Linked DNA regions of Homo sapiens: region 1 is linked to region 2. The links come from fine-mapping of genetic effects on gene expression. Tissue or cell type: whole blood. Region 2 holds a variant in brackets; the other region holds the start of a gene. All regions are shown on one strand. Distances are between the middles of the regions.

Region 1 (8,000 bases), 75 kb before region 2:
CTGCATACTGTATGATTCCAACTATATGACATTCTGGAAAAGGCAAAACTAAGGAGAGAGTAAAAAAAATCAGTGGTTGCCAGGAGTTTGCAGGGAGGGAAAGATGAACAGAGCGTGGAAGACTTCCAGGGCAGAAAAACTCTGCGTAATACTATAATGGTGGACACATGTCATTATACATTTGTCTAAACTCATAGAATATACAAGACCAAGTAAACTCTAGACTTTGGGTGATAATGATGTATCAACGTAGGTTCACTGACTATAACAAATGGACCACTATGATGAAAGATGTTGATGGTGGAGGAGGCTGTGCCCGTGTGAAGGCAGGGGTTACGTGGGAAATCTCTGTACTTTATGTTCAGTGTTACGTGAAGATAAAAGTGCTCTAAAAAAATAAAGTCTATTAAAAAACAAAACAAGTCGGGGGAAAAAAAGAGCCCGGCTCTTCCCCAGGGTGTGGCAAAAAGGCAATGTGTCTTCCTGAACTTGCTCAAGGAAAAAGAAGGCCACAATCACCTTTAGTGCCCAAGGACATGAACGTTAATATCATAATTAGAACTAAAAAGAGCCAGGAAGGCAATTACCAGAATTATGGTACCATCTTCCCTTCAAATTAACTAAAATAGTGAAAAATCTAACAAGGCCTTCACTTAATTATCAGAAACTTCCTAGCCTGCCACTAGCAAGGGTAATGCTTAAGTCAGCGATGTCAGGGATTGTACAGCTTAACCTTGACATAAACTACTTAAGTGTTGTTCAATGGACTCTACATTCACAGGCCCATTTCATGGAGTCACATAAATTTCTCCTCCCGCATTACATACCTGAGAGGTCAAACGTACCACCACAGAATCTGGATCCTAGGTCAGTTAACAAAACCTGCAAAATCTTGAAGGAATCTGTTTTCTGCATTTATCATTCAGCTCCTTAGTAACAACTGCCAAGTATTAGGAAACCAGGCGAACCACAAGCACTTTTTTATGTGTCTCCCTGAATATATTAGTCAGAAATTAAAGAAGAACTGAGAGGCTTCTGGTACTTGTGCAGTGTCATCTAAAACAATGTTAACTTTACTCATTAACACCACACGACATTTCACAAAGTATATTCGGTTGGATGTCAGTGTAGTTAAGGGTAAGTGCTAAGAAAGCAAGCCACCACCTTATACGCTCTTCTAGCCAAGTACTCAGAAGGCCTCTGATCTTAAACACCGGGAATGAACACATTTGTTCCTGCAAAGCCAACATGTTTAAGCACAATTTACAAACCTAGTTATAATACGGTCTAAGTGTCAAACAGATAACCCTTTCATAGTCTCTGCATCCCTCATTCCTCCCTCCCAAACAAAACCAGCCTGAATTGCCCACTGCATGCAAAAGGCTATTTTGCTTCATGCAAGTCTTACTACTTTCCATGGCTCACAGTCTCCAAGAGACTAACCCTCTCATTTACTAACTCAAACCTTAAACTGCCTCCAACAACTTCCCTCTCTTCTTAACCCCCACTCAGCAAAGACATCTCTGTCAGCGAAGAAAGCTGCATAGGAGGCTTGGAAGTGGCTGCCTCTGCAAATTCCCCGCCCCCCACCTTCCTACCAAAAGGGCACTTCAAGAACTTTACCATCTCACATGAAAGTTGCTCCAATTCCATTCTCCAAAATTGGATTTGAGCATGAAAAGTTTCTTTTTACAATCAACTGCTATTTAGGCTACTGATCACACTTAACTTGCAACTTGCTTTCTACACAAATTAAGAATGCCATCTAGTTCTCATGTATGAGCCAGCACTGGGGGTGTACACACGCGTGCGCACACATATACACAGCCTCCTCCACCGAAGGCATTTCCTGGCACAAGGGGCATCCTAAACTTGCTCCATTTCCAAGGTGTGACCCTCTATCCCCAAATTCATCCCTTTTTCTTCATTTCAAAGTTCAGCCTAATCCGCTATTTTGCAGCAGCTATGGCCATTTATCCCCCTTGATTTCTTGACATCATCTTCTCTGCTTCTGGCTGGGGAACTTTTGATTTGAATACAGTTGTCTGTGTGGGGATCCTTCATGTTAATGATGTGGTGAGCTGGCAGGGATGATAGGTGAGAGTACACAGTGTACTTTTTCTAGTTACGTTTCGCCTCATCACTGCTATAGGGGCCTTTCTAAACGCCTGCCACACCAGGAGAGAGACCTACAGACCCAAGCTTACCCGTTTCTGGGCAGCCTCCAGGGGACAGGTAGAAACAGAACAGATGGCCTGTTCTCCAGTATCTAGACTCAGAAGCAAGATACTTCTAACCACTCCACGAATGAAGCAAACACACGTACCTCTGGCTCAGCCAGGGAGTCACAGTCACTACCCTTCCCCTGGTTTCGGCCCCAGCCCTGTCCAGGCGTGGATGCTGCACTCTCCTCGCTGTAAACCGTCCACCCTCCCAACCCAAAGCAAAGAGCTTCCAACAGAGGTGGGAGCATTAGCGCCGTACCCGCCCTTCCCTCTCGATCCCGGCCAGAAAACTCCACTTCCCGGATTCCCGGCCACTCTCTCCCGCCCCCTCCCCGGGCGATCCAGCTAGCGCAGTCCAGATGCCAGCTTAGTGCCCAGTCCAGCTGCGAACCCCCACACTCCGAGCCAGGACCCAGTAAGAGATCCCAGCTTCCTCCCTCTTCCAGGACTGGGGTTCCCCAGATTCTGGACGCACCCCTCAAACATGCTAGGGCTGAAAAAAGTCCTACCCCGCCCCCCAGCCACGCCGCCAGCCTCCAGCCCAGCCCCGGAGGGGCCTCCTCTCCAGAGGCTAAAAGGGACCATGAATGGTTGCCACAGTAGCCTTCCCCCGCACCGCGCAAGGGTCCTCAGACCCCCGAGGAGGACAGACCCGCGTGGCCCCGAAGGGATACCTCCCTCTCCTCCCGGAAGCCAGCAGGTCCCCGCAGGGAGTGTGCTCTCAGAGGGTCCCCGGGAATCTGGGGAAGACTTGGGGGGTGGCTGGATTCGGGTGCAGCCCCTCCCGGGGCGGGCGGAGGTCGGCGCTGCGGCGCGTCCCCGGGGGGCACTCACGATGGTCACGCTGGCTTTGCGCAGGTCGCGGTTCTCCTCCTGCAGTGCCTTGCACTTCAGTTTGTAGGTCTCCAGCTCTATCTTCAGCACCTTGTTCTCTTGCTGCAGCGAGGCCAGGCGGTTGGTGAGCTCCTCCAGGCGGAACGGCGAGATGACAATGCCCCCCGACTTCCCACCGCCGCCGCCTCCCCCGCCGCCACCGCCGCCGCCCGAGGTCGACGAGCAGGACGACTGCATGGCGGCCGAGCTGCTGCTGTTGCCCCCCGCCCCGTCCGTGTCGCTCTCGCTGGCGCTGTCCGCCATGGCCGCGGCGGGCTGGGGAAAGGAGGAGGAGCAGCAGGGAGGCGGCGGCGACGAAGGCCGGGCTGCGAATGAGTGGGCGCCGGGCGAGCACAGGGGAGCGCCGAGCTGAGCGCCTGGCACCAGGGCGCAGACTCGGAGCGGCGGCGAGAGAAAGAGAGGGCGCTTCCCGCTGCCAAGGGACCTCCTCTGCCAGAGAACAGAGACCCCGCCCGGGCTTGGGCAGTATTGCACTGGGGCTCGCTCCAGCCGGGCTGGGCGCGCTCCCTAGGCCGCCCAGCAAAGCTGGCTGAAAGCTCCGGGACCCGCCCGCCGCCGTCTGGTGACCACGGGCGGGCTGGGAACGCGCAGGCACTGCGGGTGCGGGAAAGCCAAGGACTGCCCCCGCACCACCAGCTCGCCAGCCACACGTGTTCCAAGGGAGGGCCTCCGAGCCCCCTGATCTAAGCCCACGGCCGCCCAGCCTCTTCCGGGCTCGCGCCCGCCCCGAGAAAAAGGAAACCTGATGCCCCACCAGCCTCGCAGGTGCCGGGGACACGTGGAAAGGTCAGCCGGGCTCCGGCACCCATCCTCTACCGTGTTGTGGCCCCATCTTCCGCCGACTGTGTGTGCGCGTGTCTCCCTCTATCTGTTTCACACATACACGCAGTTTTATATTCTCAAAAGCAAGGTGTTTTTGACTAGGAAGGCTTGGATAAACCTAAGAGAACAAAGTTCCTCTACAAGAGGCCGAGGAGGATGAAACAACAGCAGCCACAGGTTAACCTTGTTAAGTAAGAATTTGCAGGAGAGACACACATCTCCTTTAATAACCTCATAAACCACACTGCGCTCAATTGTTTAAACAAGGTGCAACTGTTTTTTTCTTTTTCTCTTTGCATTTTGCAAACATTTCCAGCACATGTCTCGTAGTAGGATTAAGACAGTAACATTTACCTAATGAAGAAAAAAAAAAAGGAAGGCGAAACACTTTTAGTAGAAGATTGAAACACCTCTTTAAGTGCCAATTTTCCAAAGTAACTGCGGACATAACATTATGCTATACAAATAGTAATGATTGAGTGGGAGTGCAACATCACCCGTCTTTGCTATCCTCTTGCTCACTCCTAGAAAACTTTAGCATGTAAAAATAAAACAGTAATTACTGTAATGCGGTCTAATTCATGGTTCTAGCTTTGCAGTTTAAGAAATTAAAAATCAAAAACTTTTATTCCCCCTTCCTCTTCCCAAAGAAAGGCTTGCAGGAAATTGGCCCAGCAGGTGAGATGATTCTAAACACTTTGCCCTGTTGACACAAAACAGCTTTCACTTATGTATAAAAATTGGAAAGTGAAACTGACCAGACTAGTTTTATTACCCACGCTTAGTTAACATTACAACAAACACATGGTAATAGAAAATAGAAAAAAAAGTGTAATTTTTTTTTCTGTTGGGTTGAACTTTCTGAAAGATTTCTAAAGTGTTAGGAAGAAAGAAGAATGATTCTTATTCCCACTCCCTCATTATCTTTAAACCTAAATTTGATCTCATGATTAAACGGTGATTCAATGGCTCTTGGAAACTGGCACCTCAGAATAAACTCGAAAACACCAAGTGTTCCAAATGACATCATCTTTCACCAAGATGGCTGCTTTTAGCAAACAGCTTAAATGCCAACAGCAACTAAACCCCAGTTTCTCCCAGGTATTTTTTAGCTTAGTGCTGGAGGGCTTCTGAACTCTGTCACTGTTTGTATAGCAGGAGGGAGGAAATGCTTGGCTTTGCTCTTGAGAAACATATAGGCAATCTAAATCATTCTGTTACAAGTGATCCAGTTTAATTTGCACTGAAACTTAGTTCTCTCACTTTTTTGGGATCTAGTACATGAGACAATGAGTTAAATTGGAAACGGATTCTGGAAAGCTCACTTGAGGGTTGAAATGGAAGAGTAAAGCTAGCAGGGAGAAGCACCACAGGGGGAAACAGATTTAACAACATTCTTTCCCCTTTATTCAGCACTGTGATCGAATCTTAAGAGTAGGTCTGGCTGCCATACCTCACAAGTTTCTATTGCTCCCTATTCCATATTATCTTAAAGCTTCCACTTTTAGAGCTTATTGCAACAGGAACATTCCTTCCAGGCAGAGCAGGGGGCAAATTAACTCTCTCTTAGCGTCACCACAAAACTAACCGCCTTGGAAAGGCGGACTCACACTGCTTCAAGTCAGCAGAGGGGTGGAGTTTGAAGCGCCTGGTTTTCTTAAAGGGCCCAAGTCATGGTTAAGCTTAAGAATGTAGTGGCCTTCAGTGGAATTTGGAGGAAATTTGCATTTTGACATGGGACTTGTAGGTAGTAATCGTGGTTAGAAGACTTTAGGGAGAAAGCCATCTTCTAAAGCTTCCCTGCTGATACAGATGGGAATAAACTGGAGAATATTTTTTCACCGCGGTTTTTATTGTTATTGCAAAGCAGAAGCGTGTCTAATTTTCTACTTCTTGTAAAAGTGATTTCCCTTATAAACAGATCATTTATCACAACACTGGTTCCGTAATAGCATTACAATGGAAACACCAGTTACAAAACCAATAATATCATTATAAAATTCCTTCTCAGCTTTCTAGGGGAAATGAATCACAAGAACAAATGGTAGTATGTGCTGCCTGGAGGAAGAAGGGACAGATTTAGGTAATCACCTCCTTTGGAGAAATAATGAAATTTAGCTTTGCCCTCAATTTAAGCTGCAAAAACACATGAACAAAGGAAAAGAATACCTTGTAGTCTAACTGCAAGGCGCAACATCAAGATTTTTATTTGTCTAGTGCCATTTTTGCAAATCACTTACTCTATGGCCTTGGAACTTTAGTGTTTACAACAATAAAATAAAATAATAATGGCATAAATCATAGAGCAATTTTGTTAATTTTTAATATATATAAACAAATTGCTGTACATATCCAGTTACATTAATGTCAGATCTGAGTAATTTTATTCAAATTCTAAATGGATTTAGTTGTTGCAGGACCCACCATTACAGTTTTGAAAAAAATTAGGGTGAGCCAAGTATGAGCGGGATGTCACAGTGTCAGAAGTTGGATAGAAATATAGAAGAATGTGTCCATGTAGCCCTATCATTTCTCCTCCTTCTTTTTTTTTTTTAAGAGGCTAGGTCTCTCTATGTTGACCAGTCTCGTCTTGAATTCCTGGCTTTGAACTCCTGGCCTCAAGTGATCCTCCTGCCTTGGATTCCCAAAGTGTTGGGATGACCGGCGAGAGCCACTGTGCCCAGCCTAGGGCTATCATTTCTTGAAAAGTAGTTGATAGTTTCTTTATCTAATTACACCTTTAATTTAGAAGCTTTGTCTAGGTCTAGCAAGGCATTTCTGAACACTGACATTTGAGACTGGGTAATTTTTTGTTGTAGGGAGCTGTCCTGTGCATTGTAGGATGTTTAGCAGCCTCCCTAGCCTTTACCTAGTAGATTCCAGTAGTATGCCAGCCAAAAAATGTCTTCAGACATTGCCAAATATCCCCTGGGCAGCAAAATTACCTCCAGTTTGGAACCACTGAACTAGTAAAACAAAAGACAGCCCCATTTTGGAGTGGTTACACACTGATTAGATACCACTGAGTCACCAACAGAATTTCCTTCTCATTTTATCTTCTCAGTGTCAATTAGACAAGAGATCCTGGGCCCAAACAACCATATCCACACTTTATACTATTGCTGTCTTTAGCCACTCTATTTCTTTTTTTTTTTTTTCTTTTTTCTTTTTGAAGACCAAATTTCGCTCTATCACCCAGGCTGGAGTGCAATGGCACAATCTCTGCTCACTGCAACCTCCACCTCCTGGGTTCAAGCGATTCTCCTGCCTCAGCCTCCCGAGTAGCTGGGACTACAGGCACCAGCCACCACACCCAGCTAGTTTTTTGTATTTTCAGTAGAGACCAGGTTTCACCATGTTGGCCAGGCTTGTCTGAAACTCCTGACCTCAGGTGATCCACCCACCTCAGCCTCCCAAAGTAGGGGGATTACAGGCATGAGCCACCATGCCCGGCCCAGCCACTCTATTTCTACAACATGTTTTTTCAATATTTTACACTTTTTAACATTAAACTAGCCTTGCACATGCAACATCTCAACTTGTCAAGAGATCATGACTACAAGATTAATTACATATCTCATCCCTATGCTCCTGTTTTTATTCACTCATTATTGCTTCACAGGAACCAAAGCCATTAATACAGATGACAGTCTAAAGAAATAAGTCATCAGCTAAAGTAAATCATTTGAGAAGTAAGAATATCAGGCTGGGGGCAGTGGCTCATGCCTGTAATCCCAGCAATTTGGGAGGCTGAAGCAGGCGGATCACCTGAGGTCAGGAGTTTGAGACCAGCCTGACCAACATGGTGAAACCCCATCTCTACTAAAAATACAAAATTAGCTGGGCATGGTGGCACATGCCTGTAATCCCAGCTACTCGGGAGGCTGAGGCAGGACAATTGCTTGAACCCAGGAGGTGGAGGTTGCAGTGAGCCGAGAACACGTCACTGCACTCCAGCCTGGGCAACAAATGTGAAATTCAGTCTCGAAAAAAAAAAAAACAAAACACATATGATTTATGTGTCTGGAGCTTTGGCAGCCAGTAACATCTAAAACTTTG
Region 2 (8,000 bases):
ACAGGGTTTCACCATGTTGGTCAGGCCAGTCTCGAATTCCTGACCTCGTGATCCCCCTCCCTCGGCCTCCCAAAGTGCTGGGATTACAGGCATGAGCCACCATGCCTGGCCGATTTTAATTGGTTTCTTTATCTTCAAATACTTGTTTGAGGATATATTCAATTTGCAATGTTGTGTTACACTTTGATTTTGCTTCAGGGTTAGGTTTGGGTAAGTACATTTCATTAGCTGAAATGTTCAGCTTCTCAGTTTCTTTCATCTTCTTATGGTAGCTTCATATAGCATTGGTCTGATTATTTTTTAAGTCTAGGCATTTGTTGATAGGGTTTCTAATTTATGAGTGCTTAGTTCAGACAGCATAGTGAAATGTAATTTCTTTAATAAAATGTCTTAGTGGTGATGTCATGGAGGAGGGGAGAAGAGTTGGCATGTCTTGTAATTCTCTTCTGTTTTCATAGGATCCTTAATTTTTCTTCTTACTTTCTTTTTTCTCTCTGTGGCAGACATCTGAGGGGCATCACTACTTCTATATATTAATCTTCCTTTCCCCTAGAAGCAGTAATTCCTCTAGGCTGACATGTCTGATATCTCACTTTATTTATTTATTTTTTCAGAGGGAGTTTCGCTCTTGTCTCCCAGTCTGGAGTGCAGTGGCGTGATCTTGGCTCACTGCAACCTCTACCTCCCAGGTTCCAGCAATTCTCCTGCTTCAGGCTCCCAAGTAGCTAGGATTACAGGCGGCTGCCACCATGCCCAGCTAATTTTTTGTATTTTTAGTAGAGACGGGGCTTCACCGTGTTAGCCAGGTTGGTCTCAAACTCCTGATTTCAGGTTATCCGCCCACCTCAGCCTCCCAAATTGCTGGGATTTACAGGCATGAGCCACTGCACCCAGCTTGATATCTCACTTTCAAGCCCTTTCCTGTAGGTAGTGCTGTGTACTACTAAGTCCCAGATTTGTTTTCAGTATTTTAGCACTCAGTTTCAGAGTGTCTCTGTCTGAGGGTGATTTTCTCTGTGTTCTAAGTAGTAATCTCACTTCTTTCCTTTTCTCTTCTCTTTTCCACATAGAATTTTAACTCCCCTAACTTTCTGTATTCATAGGGTTGTAGCAGCAATGGAAATGCTATTGTAATTTTATGTTTATATCTTACAAGTAATTTGAAGTTGTTACAGTTGAAGGCATGGGTCATGTGAGACTTTATTTACACTTCTTCCACCTGTTAGGTTTATTATAGTTTGAGTGTGTCCCCCCGCCAAAGTTCAGGTGCTGCCAATGTGGTAATATTAAGAGGTGGGGCCTGGCCGGGCACGGTGGCTCACATCTGTAATCCCAGCACTTTGGGAGGCCGAGGCAGGTGGATCACGAGGTAAGGAGTTCAAGCCCAGCCTGGCCAAGATGGTGAAACCCCATCTGTACTGAAAATACAAAAAATTAGCCGGGCATGGTGGTGGGTGCCTGTAATCCCAGCTACTCGGGAGGCTGAGGCAGAGAATCCCTTGAACCAGGGAGGCAGAGGTTGCAGTGAGCTGAGATCGCACCACTGCACTCCAGTCTGGGCAACAGAGCAAGACCCCATTAAAAAAAAAAAAAAGAAGTGAGGCCTTTAAGAGGTGATTAGGCCATGAGGGCCCCTCCCTCCTAAATGCAATTTTGTGCCATTTTATAAAAGGACTTGATGTTAAGGGAGTTCCTTCTCTTTTGCCCTTCCATCTTCTGTTATGTGAGTATGCAGCAAGAAGACCCTCCCTAGAGGCTAGTGCCTTGATCTTGGACTTCTCAGCCTTCATAACTGTGAAAAAATAAATTCTATTTTTTATTATTCTAAAGAATAATTCTTTTCGTTATATGTTACCCAGTCTTAGATATTCTGTTACAGTAGCACAAAGTGCACTAAGCTGTGTAGATAGAAGCTGTATTTTAGGGCTGACTGAAACTCTGAGGATTTATTTTAAGATAGAAAAAAGTAGACTTGTTGACAATTTGGATATGAGCTTTGAGAAAAAGGGAAGCGTCAAAAGTACTTCTTAAATTATTGGCTGGCCAAATGAGGAAAAGGAGGTTGTGGAGGGGAATTGAGATAGAGGAAGTGAATAAAGATTTCAGTTTGGGATATATTAACTTTGGGAAATTTTTGAGACATCCAGTTGGAGATGTTGAGTAGGCAATTGGCTCTACAAATTTATATTCAGGGATAGGTTAGGACACATGTGGTATGGATATGATACATCTTTCACTCATTTTCTATTAAGAGAATTTTGAAAATGGATGCTTCTGAGTTGAGTTGGGAAACCATCTCTTTTAACCCCTAAGCTAAGTCTTGCTACCATTAGAAAAATGTGTTTTCCAGTTATGCTTTCTTCAGAAGATTAGCAGATAACTGATGTCTTTTGAAAAGTTTAAATGGTAAATAACTTTTAAAAATATGGTGCCTGTATTGTCTGGAAACATTTAAAAACAGAGAAAAGAAAAACACTAAATTCAGATGGAATCTTGCCACATAGAAATAATCACTACTGATATTTCTGTATATATTCCACTTTTTTGTATGCATATTTACAAATCAGAGACACACTTGAAATAAAACAAAGAAATGATAGATGCTTGAGGTGATGGATATCTCAATTACCCTGATTTGATCATTACACATTGTTTGCTTGTATCATAATATCACATGTGCCCCATAAAAATGTATAACTATTATGTGTTCATGATAAAGATGCAACCATGCTATTTGCTACGGTTCTTAACTTTGCACTTTTTTTTCCCCAAAAGTCAATGCTAAAAACCAAAAACCCAAAAAACCCACCAAAAAACCAAACCAAGTCAATATGCAATCTCACATTTCTGTATAATTAAATAAGAGCCTAAGGTCTGGATGATTCTTTACTTTTAACAAGAACTCCAGGTAATTAATATGATCAACCTCAACTTCAGCTTTTTTCCTGATGACTGCATATTATTTAAAAACAAAACCAAACCCTGCTATTTGTTTCTTCTTTCAGGTTAAATTATTCCAAGTGATTCCAATTAAGCAATCCTCATGTGTATCTCTTTAAGCTGTGACCAGGAAGATCTAAGAAGGTTCTATGGCATTTTGGAACTTTTCTCCCTGACTTGATTGTATTTGAAGTTTTGCCAAAATGAAAAATCAAGACCTGTGCCTTGGGGCAGAGCTGTAGAGCTACGTCATGACGCTTGGTTTTCATTTAAGACAGGGAGGCCATTCTGGAAATCAAACTTTAATTAAGCACACAGCTGGGAGTGGATAGGGGTCAAAGCCTGGAACTTGCCCCTCCTCCTCATACTACTATCCCAGGTGAGATGTATTTTCCTGGTATGATCCCCATTGCTGGCATGCCTGAACCTTTCCCCAGATAATTTCAGAAAGTGGCCTGTGATGCATGTTCTAAGGTAGGATTTATCTAATTTCTTTTGAATTGGTGAAGATTGTATTGGGAACTAGGGTTAGACTGTTTCTAACCTCAG[G/C]AGAGTCACTTCCATACTGTTCCAGCTGATAGCAAACACTGATAACAATTTCAAAGGAGGAAAATAAATGTTTAAATGGCAGTAACGTAGAAAAGTGCCTTGGTTTCAAAACATGTTGATAACTACTGCTCCTTTGTTATTCAGTTTTGCCCTCTATAAAAGTCTGCTATTATTTCTAGCGCTGTTTCCTGAGTAGTTTTCTAGTCAAGCAATATGAGGGATTAAAATGGTGCCTGGGGCGGGGGTGGAGGGGAGGGCAGGGGTGGGGGAGTCAAGCTGAAGTTTCAGTACCCAAGTCTCATTGTACTTTGCTAGGAATACCTATGGCATTAAAGTAGGAGATTTTCTTTTCTTTTCTTTTCTTTTTTTTTGAGATGGAGTCTCGTTCTGTTGCCCAGGCTGGAGTGCAGTGGCGTGATCTGGGCTCACTGCAGCCTCCGCCTTCTGGGTTCAAGCAATTCTCCTGCCTCAGCCTCCCGAGTAGCTGGGATTACAGTTGCCCGCCACCACACCCGGCTAATTTTTGTATTTTTGGTAGACACAGTGTTTCACCATGTTGGCCAGGCTGGTGTTGAACTCCTGACCTCAGGTGATCTGCCCACCTTGGCCTCCCAAAGTGCTGGGGTGACAGGTGTGAGCCACTGCACCCAGCATGAAGTAGGAGATTTTTATCTCTTAATATTAAGTGAAGTTTTGGGTCATCAAAAAAGAGGTGTGCATATATGTGCCTGTTGTGTATACACGCAGAGTGGAGATGTTGAAGCAGCTCTAGACTGGTAGAATCCAGAGGAAGAAGAGAGTGGGGAGTAGAGAAAGGGAAAAAACAGAGAACTATTAAAACCAATAGATGCTATAAAGTGCAAAGAACCATATTTTGTTTAGGACCTCCCTGCATCTTTAACTTTGTTATTCTCCATTTCAGGTTCCTGTGTGCTTCTGTCAGAGACATAATGTAATATTCTAATGAGTTTAATTTATTATACTCATTTATTCTATTATTCATTCTCCTCTTACTATTTTTTTTTTTTTCTTGAGACAGGGTCACGCTCTCTTGCCTAGGTTGGAGTGCAATGGTGGGATCATGGCTCACTGCAGCCACCATCTCCGAGGCTCAAGTGATCCTCCCACCTCGGCCTCCCCAGCAGTTGGAGTTATAGGCATGCACCACTACGCCAGGCTAATTTTTAATTTTTTTGGTATAGATGGGGTCTCACTATGTTACCCAGGCTGGTGTTAAACTCCTGGGCTCCAGAGATCATCCTGCCTCGGCTTCCCAAAGTGTTGGGATTACAGGCATGCATCACTGAGCCCTGCTGTTCCCTTATTCCACTTCTGAAAATGTGTTTTCAGAGGACAAAGATTTGTCTTTATTCAACACTGAATTTGTAGCACCTAGTAGGTGCTCAGCTTGTTGAATGAATGAAGATTTGAATACACTAAGCACATCGCTTACATGACCTCTTAATAATCTGAGCTTTACAATGTTTTGGACTAGAAACAGGACTTTCTCCCCCTTGTTATTGTTGTTATATGTATTTAAAGACAAAAACTTTTGGGTGACTAGTTTGAATTCAGGAGTTTAGGGTATGTATGGCATTTGGAATATGATCACTATATCACTAGGTATGTGCCACCATTCCATTATTTTTATGGAGTCCATACATTTCTCTGATACATGAGCTAGGAGTTGAAAACAGTCTATTAAGTTAGTATGCAACCTATTTTAGGACTGTTAGTCTCCACAGTCTGACCACAACTCTTTAAATTTGTCTGTCATTGTCAGTCTTCATTGTCTTAAGTCTAGCCCAGAGCTGCTACTCACTGTCAGCAGAATCCCAAAGTCAAAATGAAGAGTGTTCCAGAACCCATATCAAGGCCTCCTCATGTGGGCTCCTAACAGCCCAGCTTAGTCTGTTACTGCCTTCTAAATACAGCACCCTGGAGCTTTAGAGCTTCAATACTTCTTTTAAAGAAAGGTTAAAACTTGGAACAGGGAAAGTAGATGCATTCAGAGTAGAGAAACTGATAGGATATTTTTGGATGACAATTGGTTCATAAATTTTAATCCCTCTTCTCTGTTAAATCTCTCAAAGGAAATCTCTAGGTTTTGCACTCTTTGACTCTTATCCTCTGCTTAGTTTTGTCTTTTGTAAAGTATGTCCCCTTTTAAAAAATTATAAAAGGACACATTTGCAGTCTTGTTTTAGTACTCTGAAACCAGAATTGTTAACAGTAGGTTAACATGTGCATGCAAGATTACATTCTCCTCTGTACGTTACAGATCTGAAAAAGGGAAAAGAATTAAAAGAATTATAAATAGTTATACACTACTAATGTTCATCTATTTTTAAATCTATCATTCTATTTCTAAATTTCTTGATTTAGAAAAGGTTCTAAATTGCTTGATTTAGAAATAGAAAGTTTTTATACTTGCAAGCTTTTATTTTTGTCTTTCTTAGATTTTAATTATTCTTTGCAAAACTCAGAGTCTAATTTATTTGTTGCACACTGAGAAGGTAACATGTTATACCTGTTACATTAGAGGAAGAAAAAAAAAAGATAATACCAGAGGCAGGGTCTGCTGAATTAAAAGTGAAACATCCACATATGTATACTCACACTTGGCTGCTGGTAGGGATGACTCAGGAAAACTCATTTGAGAATCAATTTTACATAATAGCAAGAGCTGTTCACAGATTTTTGACCTGATAATTCCACTTTTTATTGGAGCATTTATAATATTTGGAAAAAATTGAAATATCCAAATATCAGAAAGTGTAAATTATGTAGTCGTATAAATTATATCTCTATTGGAAATAATAATATCTAGCTATTGAATTGTAAAGATCCTGCATGGGGCAAAGCCCTTTTTTTTTTTTTTTTTTTTTTTTTTGAGATTGAGTTTTGCTTTTGTTGCCCAGGCTGTAGTGCAATGGCGCAATCCCGGCTCACTGCAACCTCCACCTCCCGGGTTCAAGTGATTCTCCTGCCTCAGCCTCCTGAGTAGCTAGGGTTATAGGCATGTGCCACCACACCTGGCTAATTTTGTATTTTTAGTAGAGACAAGGTTTTTCCATGTTGGTAAGTCTGAACTCAAACTCCCGACCTCAGGTGATCCGCCTGCCTCAGCCTCCCAAAATGCTGGGATTACAGGAGTGAGCCACTGCGCCCGGCCCTGGCAAAGCCTATTTTTAAATGTAAGTGAATAAAGGAAATATAAAGTTACACCACTCTTATTCACCTGTGGAAAAAAATAAATACATTTGATGCAAACTAGAAGGAAATACTTGTTTTAGGGTGTTAGAATTAAGCATGGTTTTATTTTTTAATGTTTTTGTTTTTGAAATGGAAAAAAATTAAAAATGCTTATCCTAGAAGATCATGTGATTTTTTAGCAACTGTCTACACAAACTACATTGATATTGCAAAACTGGCATAAGCCTTTACTAGAAAACTGAAATAACAAATGCCTCTTGGTTACACAAAATATTCCATTTTTCAACTTCATTTATTCCAGCACTGCAAATGTTTGCAACTCAGCTTTTGTGACCCTCATAGTGTACATCCACTATTTTTGAAAGCTATTCAGAAATATTCAGAATTATATGTAGTACTGTTCAAGGTATATCCAACAACACTGTGAGGAAAATGAGGGCCCAGGTCACACAACTAGTGAGGGATACTTCATCCAGGAGTATAATATGTACCCCTTATTGGCCAACTTAAGGGAGAGAAGTTTGAGGAACACCAGCTGATATTACTACTAGGGGTACCCTTGGGAGACAGGGCCTAAGACAGAAAGGTGAAAACTCAGGGAAACCAGACAAAGGACTACTGGGTAACTAGGAAGGAGACAAGTCAGGACACAAACTAGTGGATCTGAGATTGATGCCATATTAGTCATAATCCTTAGTTTTTAGGGAACAAAAAACACAATTTGGACCATATTAAGTATAAAGAGACTGTACTGACTTATGTAAGTAGGAAGTACCTAACTTCTAAGAACTCAAATTACTTCAGAATTTTCTTTTCTCTCTGTCTCCATCTACCTTTCAGATCTGCTTATTTGTGCATTTTGGTTGGCCTCTCTCCTGTTTTATTTATTTTTATTTTAAGATATTTCTGTGCTTAAATTTTGTGGGTACAAACTAGGTATATATATTTATAGAGTATATGGGGTATTTTGATACAGGCATACAATGTATGATGATAACATTAGGGTAAATGTGGTATTTGTTTCCTCAAGCATTTATCTTTTGTGTTACAAATAACCTAGTTTTACTCTTTTAGTTATTATAAAATGTACAATTAAATTATTGGCTGTACTCTGTTGTGCTATCAAATACTAGATCTTATTCATTCTTTCTAACTATTTTTTTGTACCCACAGGCATCCCCACTCCCCCAGCCCCCACCCTTCCAGACTTTGGTAACCATCCTTCTACTCCCTGTCTCCATAAGCTAAATTGTTTTAATTTTTAGTTCCCACAAATAAGTGTAAACATGTGAAGT

What was found. PIP is the estimated chance that this variant, and not a neighbour inherited with it, causes the effect.
Region 1: CCDC6 starts here. The variant in region 2 is fine-mapped to the expression of CCDC6 in whole blood (INTERVAL, PIP 0.98).

What each region holds. Positions count from the first base shown.
Region 1 is chr10:59,903,063-59,911,062 of GRCh38, forward strand. CCDC6 (coiled-coil domain containing 6) reads right to left here and starts at 3,494. Exons shown (of 9, transcript NM_005436.5): 1 at 3,060-3,494. The coding sequence starts at 3,362. RefSeq lists enhancers at 2,207-2,436, 5,129-5,922 and silencers at 2,957-3,236, 3,267-3,606, 3,789-4,083.
Region 2 is chr10:59,978,495-59,986,494 of GRCh38, forward strand. No RefSeq gene overlaps it. Among named protein-coding and RNA genes, the nearest start is that of LINC01553, 22 kb to the left of the region's middle. The variant G/C (reference allele first, on the strand shown) is at 3,490.